Linked DNA regions of Homo sapiens: region 2 is reported to be linked to region 1. Evidence: microRNA targets listed by miRTarBase, many of them from high-throughput screens and not tested one by one. Region 1 holds a microRNA gene; the other region holds the end of a gene's coding sequence.

Region 1 (4,476 bases):
CTGCCGCAGTGCCTGGGACAGGACTGGCCCCTATTAGGAACTAATGCATCTTTGTTGAATAAATGACTTTTTCTCCCCATTCTTGGTCCCCAGGCCAACTGTCCTGGCTCACTAAAGGCTCTGGCCATAACTGAAACTCTTAGACACTCGGGACCTTGAAGGGCCCTCCAAGCCCGGACACAGCACTATCCTCGATTCATGCCATGTTCCCGCCCCCCGCAAATAGCAGCCAATTCCAACTGCTCATAAATTTCCTGCCTGTCACCCATGGCACCCAGGCCAGGCAGGCAGGAGGTGCTGGAGGCCGACTGGTCCATACTTGCTTCCAGGTCCCTGGGGAGCTTGGAGGCCAGAAGCCCAGGCTTTGCGCCTGTGCCCAGAATAACCTCTGCAAAGTCTGTCCCTTGGAGAAGATGTGAAAGCAGATCTGTCAAACGCAAGGATGTCCAGGCTTGAGTGTTAAAGAAAACACCAGTGCAGCTTATGATGCAGCTTGTACAGCGTAATTCCACTTTTCGTAAAATACTGTATGTGAGTACGCATATGCATGGGAATAGCATATGGGACAATAGTTAACCAAATGTTATCAGTGGTTTGCTCTCCGTGGAGAGATTAAGGTGATTGAAACAATTTTCTTTCTGTTCACTCTTCTGTATTTTCTTTTTCTTTTTTTTGAGGCAGAGCACTTTGGGAGGCTGAGGTGGGCGGATCACTTGAGGTCAGGAGTTCAAGACTAGCCTGGCCAACATGGTGAAACCCCGTCTCTACTAAAAATACAAAAATTAACCGGGTGTGATTACATACGCTTGTAATCCTAGCTACTCGGGAGGCTGAGACTGGAGAATCATTTGAACCCAAGAGGCAAAGTTACCGTGAGCCAAGATCACGCCACTGTACTCCAGCCTGGGTGGCAGAGTAAGACTCTGACTGAAAAATAAATAAATAAAGATGAGGAAACTGACCAGGATGGTGGCTCACATCTGTAATCCTAGCACTTTGGGAGGCTGAGGTTGGAGGATCGCTTGAGCCCTTAAGTTTGAGACCAGCCTGGGCAACAAAGTGAGACTCCGTCTCTACAAAAGATAAAAAAAAACTAGCCAGGTGTGGTGGCATGAGCCTGTGGTCCCAGGTATACAGGAGGCTGATTGGGGAGAATCACCTGAGCTTGGGAGGCTGAGGTGGCAGTGAGCCTTGTTTGCACCACTGCATTTCAACCTGGGCAACAGAGCAAGACTCTGTCTAAAAAAAATAAAAAATAAATAAAAATAAAAATAAAAAAGATGAGGAAACTGAGGCTTGGAGAGGTTAAGTATCCTGCTCAGGGCCCCCCAGCTGACTCTGGGGCCAAGATGAACCCCAGTAAGAATCAAGAGCAGCATTCAGAGGCAAACACGAAGCCCCATTTCTAGCCCACATACTGGTGTACTTAACAGTGAAAGGCAAACTAATACTGTGGTTTTTGAAAAACTCTCCTCCCATGCCATATCTGCTCTTTTTTTCACCTTTTAGTTTTAAAATAACATTTGAAATCTGCCCTTTTTAGGAAAGACCAATTTAAAAAAAAAGTCAGGATTTCAACCCCATTGGAGGTTTATTCCTCCCTGCATGTAGAAGGCTGTATCAAAATTGCTTAAATACAAAAAATGTATAATTTGAAATAGTGGAAAATGGTTAAGTAGGTAAAGTGGGCATCATAGACTGACAATAAATGTAAAAGGTAAAATAACTTAAAGGCAGATAAAATCATTTTTTTAAATGCCCCAAAGTGGTAAAATTACCCTGCAGTGCACAGAAGTGATCAGGATAGGAAAACAATTAGAATTTTTTTTTTTTAAACTGGAAACGAACAAAAGCATAAAGGTTGCTAAATTGTTCCAGGGTTCATAACAATTACCACAACTTCCCTGAAAGTATAGATAGACCCATTTACAAAAATGCTCAATGTTACATTTGAAGTAGGAGAAACATCTTGCAATATATAAAGCCACAGTGAGTAAAATGCCTGTGACCAAAAGTAGCTATGATTGAGTCAACCAGTATTTATTTGTTGTTGTTGTTGTTGTTGTTTTGAGACAGAGTCTCCAGAGTCTCCCTCTGACACCCAGGTTGGAGTGCAGTGGCATAATCTCAGCTCACTGCAACCTTTGCCTCCTGGGTTCAAGAGATCCTCCCACCTCAGCCTCTCAAGTAGCTGGGATTACAAGCATGCGCCACCACACCCAGCTAATTTTTGTATTTTTAGTAGAGATGGGGTTTTGCCATGTTGGCCAGACTGGTCTCGAACTCCTGACCTCAACAGATCCTCCTGCTTTGGCCTCCCAAAGTGCTGGGATTACAGGCGTGACGCCTGGCCCAGCATTTACTGAGATACTGCTGTGTGTTAGATACTGTTTTGGGCATTGGAGCTACAACAGCAAACAAAACAGGCCACGTCCCTGCCCTCGTGGAGCTGGCATTCTGACTATAAACAAGTGAACAGATAAAAAGATGATTTCTGCTTGTGATAAATGCTCCCACTTTGCCACACTGACCAAATCACCTTGCTCTGATTCAGCACGTCAGAGCAGCTGAGAGGGACCTGTGAGGCCTCCTCATCTAGTCATTCTCAAGGTTAATCTTAGCAGCAGAACCTGTTGTTTAAAGGACATCTTCGGATGGGCACGGTGGCTCAGGCCTATAATCCCAGCACTCTGGGAGGCCAAGGAGGGTGGATCATCTGAGGTTGGAAGTTCAAGACCAGCCTGGCCATGGTGAAACCCCGTCTCTACTAAAAATACAAAAAATTAGCCGGGTGTGGTGGCGCACGCCTGTAATCCCAGCTACTCGGGAGGCTGAGGCAGGAGAATCACTTGAACCTGGGAGGCGGAGGTTGCAGTGAGCCGAGATCGTGCCATTGCGCTCCAGCCTGGGCAACAAGAGTGAAACTCCGTCTCAAAAAAAATAAATAAATAAAATAAAGGGCATCTTCTGTGGTGGCGGGGGTTCTGAGGACAGTAAGCTAGGGAGTAAGCCGGACCCAGAGCCTTGGCCGGCAGCAGAAACACAAAAACCCACAAAGGGCCAGTGCTGCGGGGAATGTAAGCCTCTCGCACTGTGCCCCTCACATGGGACACAGGATGTTGCCAGGCTTTCCATGAAAGGGGTTCTGTGGTGTGGTGGTCACAGCGCGGATGCTTGCTATTCTCCATATTTGCAATTATGCACCCCCACATGCACCCCCCGCCCCCCACACACAGCCACTTATGAAGAGGTATCATTGGCATCTTTGTCTTCTATCCCTCGGCCAGAGCTGATTGGTCCAGGGGAATAAATCAGACCTAGGCTAGACCAATGGGCGTCCTCCACTGGGTCTTGGGGATTGGCATGCTGGGAGACCAGGCCAGTCAGTAGTCAGGGAGGAAGGCGGATACCTGCAAGTGGCTGTTATTAGCAGGCGTCTAGAGGGCAGGGCCACAGACTGCCCCTGCTGACCTTTGCAAGCCCTTTGCTACCTATCCTGAGACCTTCCCCCTGGTCTCTGTGAAATGCCCTTTTGTAACTTTAAGTGAGCTTCCCTTTCCTGGAGGGTTGAAGTGAGTTTCTGCTCCTCACAATGCAGTAGCAATTACACGGTCAAATCAGTTGGGAAGGCTGGCTGCAGTGGCTCACACCTGTAAGTTTGGGAGGCTGAGGCGAGGGGATTGCTTGCATCTGGGATTTCAAGACCAGCCTGGGCAACATAGTGAGGCCTTGTCTCTATAAAAAATAAAATAAAAAATTAGCCAGGCATGGTGGTGCATGCCTGTAGTCCCAGCTCCTTGGGAGGCTGAGGCTGGAGGATCGCTTGAGCCTAGAAGGTCAAGGCTATGCTGAGCCATGATTGCAACCACTACACTCAGCCTAAATAACAGAGTGAGACCCTGTTTCAAAAAAAAAAAGTCAGTTGGGAAACTGGGTCATTAAAGCCACACAAATTTGTTTACTGCAGGACTTTTCGGAGCCTTTGACATGCTAATACATACAGTGACTTTCCAAGTGGGACCAAGGTATGTGGTATTTCCCAAACTCATGGAATGCCTCACCTAGCTGGTGTTCACAGAACACCTTTTGGGCAATGCTAATCTGCCTCCCCTCCCCTCACTGTACAAGTGACGGAATGAAGGCACAGAGCGGGAGAGTGAGTTACCCAAGGTCACACAGCTGCTGAATTGCAGAGAAAGTCCTGGCACCTGAGGCCTCCTAGTGTTCTTCCCATTACATCCCAGTTGTCATAAGACTTCCTTGGATGGATGATGTATGTGCTGAGATTCTTGGACCGAGGTGGTGGTGGTCCAGTGTAGACGCCAGGAAAAGGGTGAGGTCGAGAATTGAAGGTCAGGCCTTGGTGAGAGAAACCCCTGTCTCCTTTAATCCTGGATGGTAGCTGTGGCTTCAGCGGGGACTAAGAGCCAACAGACGGCTTGGGGCTGGCCCCAGGCTGCCCTGACCGCCTTTACA
Region 2 (4,000 bases), not on the chromosome of region 1:
CTTGTAGTGAACCGAGGTTGTAGTAACTGAGATTGTGCCATTGCACTCCAGCCTGGGCAAGACTCCATCTCAAAAAAAAAAAAAAAAAAAAAAAAGAAAAGAAAATGCTAAATAAAATTAATATTAATCAGAGAAAAAATAATTTTATATCCTTTAGTTAGTTAAAATTGTTCTGTAGTCTTAAATTTCAAGTGAATTAAAACTTAACCTTTATGGACACTCATTATTTCATCCAGAATTTATTGGCTACTATTGGATAAGGAAGCAAAAGGCACTTAAAAATAACTAGAAAAACCACAATCCAATTAGCCACTAACTTGATTGATTGATTGATGTTTTTCTATAGGCAAGTTAACCGATATCCATGGGAATGTTCTTCAGTACCACAAGGATGTGAAGCATATGAACTCTGCAGGAGTCCTGGCCACACTGAGGAATTATGACTACTATGCAAGCCGAGTTCCAGAATCTATTAAAAATGCACTTGTTCCTTAAAGGAAAGTTTCATTTGGCCGGGCGCGGTGGCTCATGCCTGTAATCCCAGCACTTTGGGAGGCCGAGGCAGGTGGATCACTTGAGCTCAGGAGTTTGAGACCAGCCTGGGCAATATCGTGAGACCCCATCTCTACAAAAATACAAATTAACTGGGCATCCTGTCATGCGCCTGTCATCCCAGCTACTTGAGAGGCTGAAGCAGAAGAATCTCTTGAGCCCGGAAGGCAGAGGTTGCAGTGAGCTGAGATCGTGCCACTGCACTCCAGCCTGAGTGACAGGAGTTAAGCCCTGTCTCAGAAAAAAAAAAAACAAAAACCCAAAAAGTACTTAAAGTTTCATTTACTTAGCTAGGAGAAAGACTTGGTTCTCAAAATAATACATTTTAAGATTAATTGGGTAGAATTAGAGTTCCACCTTTATTCATTGTTGAGCAGTGATTTATATTTAGTTATTATATTTAGGAATAGAAAATAGAATTAAATAATTTAACTTGATTAATCAACCAGACCAATTTTGACGTCTGGAGAACTTATAAACTCAATATGTTATATTTGTTTTCCTGTATTTAGGTGGAGAAATGAGAAAAAGCTTTAGTTCCAATTGACAGTTCAGGTCAATGTTCAATGAACATTCCTATCTTCTAAACCAGATTTCTCTTTTTTTTTCCTGAGACGGAGTCTCGCTCTGTAGCCTAGGCTAGAATGTAGTGGCGTGATCTCGGCTCACTGCAAGCTCCGCCTCCCGGGTTCATGCCATTCTCCTGCCTCAGCCTCCCGAGTAGCTGGGACTGCAGGCACCGCCACCACGCCTGGCTAATTTTTTGTATTTTTAGTAGAGAAGGTGTTTCACCGTGTTAGCCAGGATGGTCTTGATCTCCTGACATCGTGATCTGTCTGCCTCGGACTCCCAAAGTGCTGGGATTACAGGTGTGAGCCACCGCACCTGGCCTAAACCAGATTTCTTTAGGGCACAATTTTTTCTGGAATCTCACTCTTGTTTTTCACAGTAATTTTAAAAACGTTTCTACTCCAATTAAGAATATATATGATGTTATTATATATGCTTATGAAACAGATTTATGAGAAAAGTTTTTTTTAAATAAATTATTTAATCCTAGCTCTTTGTTATTCACCAGCTTTTTAAAAAAGTGTTTGAAAATTATACATTCTCGACTTTGGGGATTAGTTTATTCTTGTGGCATCATTATAAGGCTTAATTGTGGAAAGCTAAGTACTTGCTTCTATTCCTTCCAATGAGAGATTATAACATAAACTATTAAAATTATTCTGCTAATATACCTAGATTTTTATTTTTAGGTCTCTGTCCATTGCTTTTAATTAAAATTATCTGTTTTCAAATCAACAAGTGGTTTAAATTAACAGTTCCCAAACTCAACTGCATATCAGAATCACCTAGGAAGATTCTTTTAAAATGCAGATTCACAGGCCAGGCGCAGTGGCTCATGCCTGTAATCACAGCACTTTGGGAGGCCGAGGCGGGTGGATCGCCTGAGGTCAGGAGTTCGAGACCAGCCTGGCCAACATGGCGAAACCCTGTCTCTCCTAAAAATACGAAAATTAGCCGGGCATGGTGGTGTGTGCCTGTAATCCCAGCTACCAGGGGGCTGAGGCAGGAGGATCACTTGAACCTGGGAGGCAGAGGTTGCAGTGAGCTGAGATCGTGCCACTGCACTCCAGCCTGGGCAACAAAGCGAGACTCTGTCTCAAACAATAAAAATAAAAATTCACAGGGTTTATCCCAACGATTTTGCTTGTGTGTGTGTGTGTGTGTGTGTGTGTGTGTGTGTGTTTATTTACTTATTTATTTATTTATTTTGAGACAGAGTCACTCTCTGTCACCCAGGCCAGAGTGCAGTGGTGCAATCTCGGCTCACTGCAACCTCCACCTCCCGGGCTCAAGCGATTCTCCTGCCTCAGCCTCCTGAGTAGCTGGGACTACAGGCACATGCCACCACCCCTGGCTAATTTTTTGTATTTTTAGTAGAGACGGGGTTTCGCTGTGTTAGCCAGGATGGTCTCGATCTTCTGACCTCATAATCTGCCCACCTTGGCCTCCCAAAGTCCTGGGATTACAAATGTGAGCCACCACGCTCAGCCTGCTTCTGTATATTTTAAGAAATTCAGGGACTGATAATCATTTAACTCTAGGACTCACTAGATAAGGTAATATAGTATTATTTTATAGAAGTGTCATAATCTAGCAGGAAGAGGTCTCTGTGGTCTTGACACCTTTGAGCCCTCCCTCCTGTAAGTCTCTTCTCATTGTCCTGGCTTTCTTTTTTCACCTAGCCACTCCTACTCAGTCTCCTTTATTGCTTTCTCTTTGTCTTCCTTCCCTTAAATGTCACTGTTTACCAAGATTCTGTTCTAGTCTCTCTCCTTTCTTTTTTTTCTTTTTTTGGTAGAGATGGGGTCTTGCTATACAGCCCAGGCTGGTCTTGAACTCCTAGCCTCAAGCAATCCTCCTGCCTCTGTCTCCCAATGTGCTGGGATTATAGGTGTGAGCCACTGCACCTGGACTATGCTTTCTCTCCTTTCTCACCAGAGGATCTAATCCACCTGTGTGACTTTTGTGGCGCTTTTGCTCATTAATCCAAAATCTTTAGCTTAGAACTCTCAAACTCTAGATCTATATACCCCAAAACCTACCTAGATGCCTTACAGAGATGTCTGAATGATTATGTCTAAACAGTTCTTCACTCTTGCCCCGACCCCTCCAGAAATTATTTTACAAACCCATGAGGTGATCTTGATAATTGGCCAAGTTAGAAAATCATCACCTGAATCCACCTGCTTCCCTCTACGAATGGAGTTCTCTATCTGTAAATAGTGGACTAAACCTAATTTTTAAAAAATCTAAGTGTAACAAGAGAATAACTTTATTTTTATTTATTTATATATTTCTTGAGACGGAGTCTCGCTCTGTCGCCAGGCTGGAGTGCAGGGGCGCAATCTTGGCTCACTGCAGCCTCCGCCTCACGGGTTCAAGCGATTCTCCTGCCTCAGCCTCCTGAGTAGCTGGGATTACAGGCATGTGCCACCACGCCCAGGTAATTTTTGTATTTTTAGTAAAGATGGGGTTTCACCATGTTGGCCAGGCTGGTCTCGAACTCCTGACCTCAGGTGATCCGCCTGCCTTGGCCTCCCAAAGTGTTGGGATTATAGGTGTGAGCCACTGCGCCCAGCCCTAAGATAATAACTTTTTTTTTTTTTTTTTTTTTTTTGAGATGGAGTCTCACTCTGTCACCCAGGCTGGAGTGCAATGGCATGATTTCAGCTCACTACAACCTCTGCCTCCCGGGTTCAAGTGGTTCTCCTGCTTCAGCCTCCCGAGTAGCAGGGGCACACCACCACACCTGGCTAATTTTTTGTATCTTTAGTAGAGACAGGGGTTTCACCATGTTGGCCAGGCTGGTCTTGAACTCCTGACCTCAGGTGATCCACCTTCCTCAGCCTCCCAAAGTGCTGGGATTACAGGTGTGAGC

The links. The annotated mature microRNA hsa-miR-6071 reads UUCUGCUGCCGGCCAAGGC and lies in region 1 at 3,022-3,040, opposite strand. An mRNA with a match to its seed (bases 2 to 7 or 8) in the 3' UTR can be bound and repressed. Matches are read on the target gene's strand: a 7mer-m8 pairs with bases 2 to 8, a 7mer-A1 pairs with bases 2 to 7 and ends in A, and an 8mer does both.
Region 2: the mRNA of BPNT1 is a reported target of hsa-miR-6071. Seed matches in the 3' UTR shown: 7mer-A1 at 693-699.

Annotation. Positions count from the first base shown.
Region 1 is chr2:85,780,636-85,785,111 of GRCh38, forward strand. It overlaps MIR6071 (microRNA 6071), which reads right to left and starts at 3,042; the gene lies at 2,965-3,042. All of the region lies in intron 2 of ATOH8 (atonal bHLH transcription factor 8), which reads left to right.
Region 2 is chr1:220,055,339-220,059,338 of GRCh38, reverse strand. BPNT1 (3'(2'), 5'-bisphosphate nucleotidase 1) reads left to right here. Exons shown (of 9, transcript NM_006085.6): 9 at 347-1,857. The coding sequence ends at 495. Among named protein-coding and RNA genes, the nearest start is that of EPRS1, 11 kb to the right of the region's middle.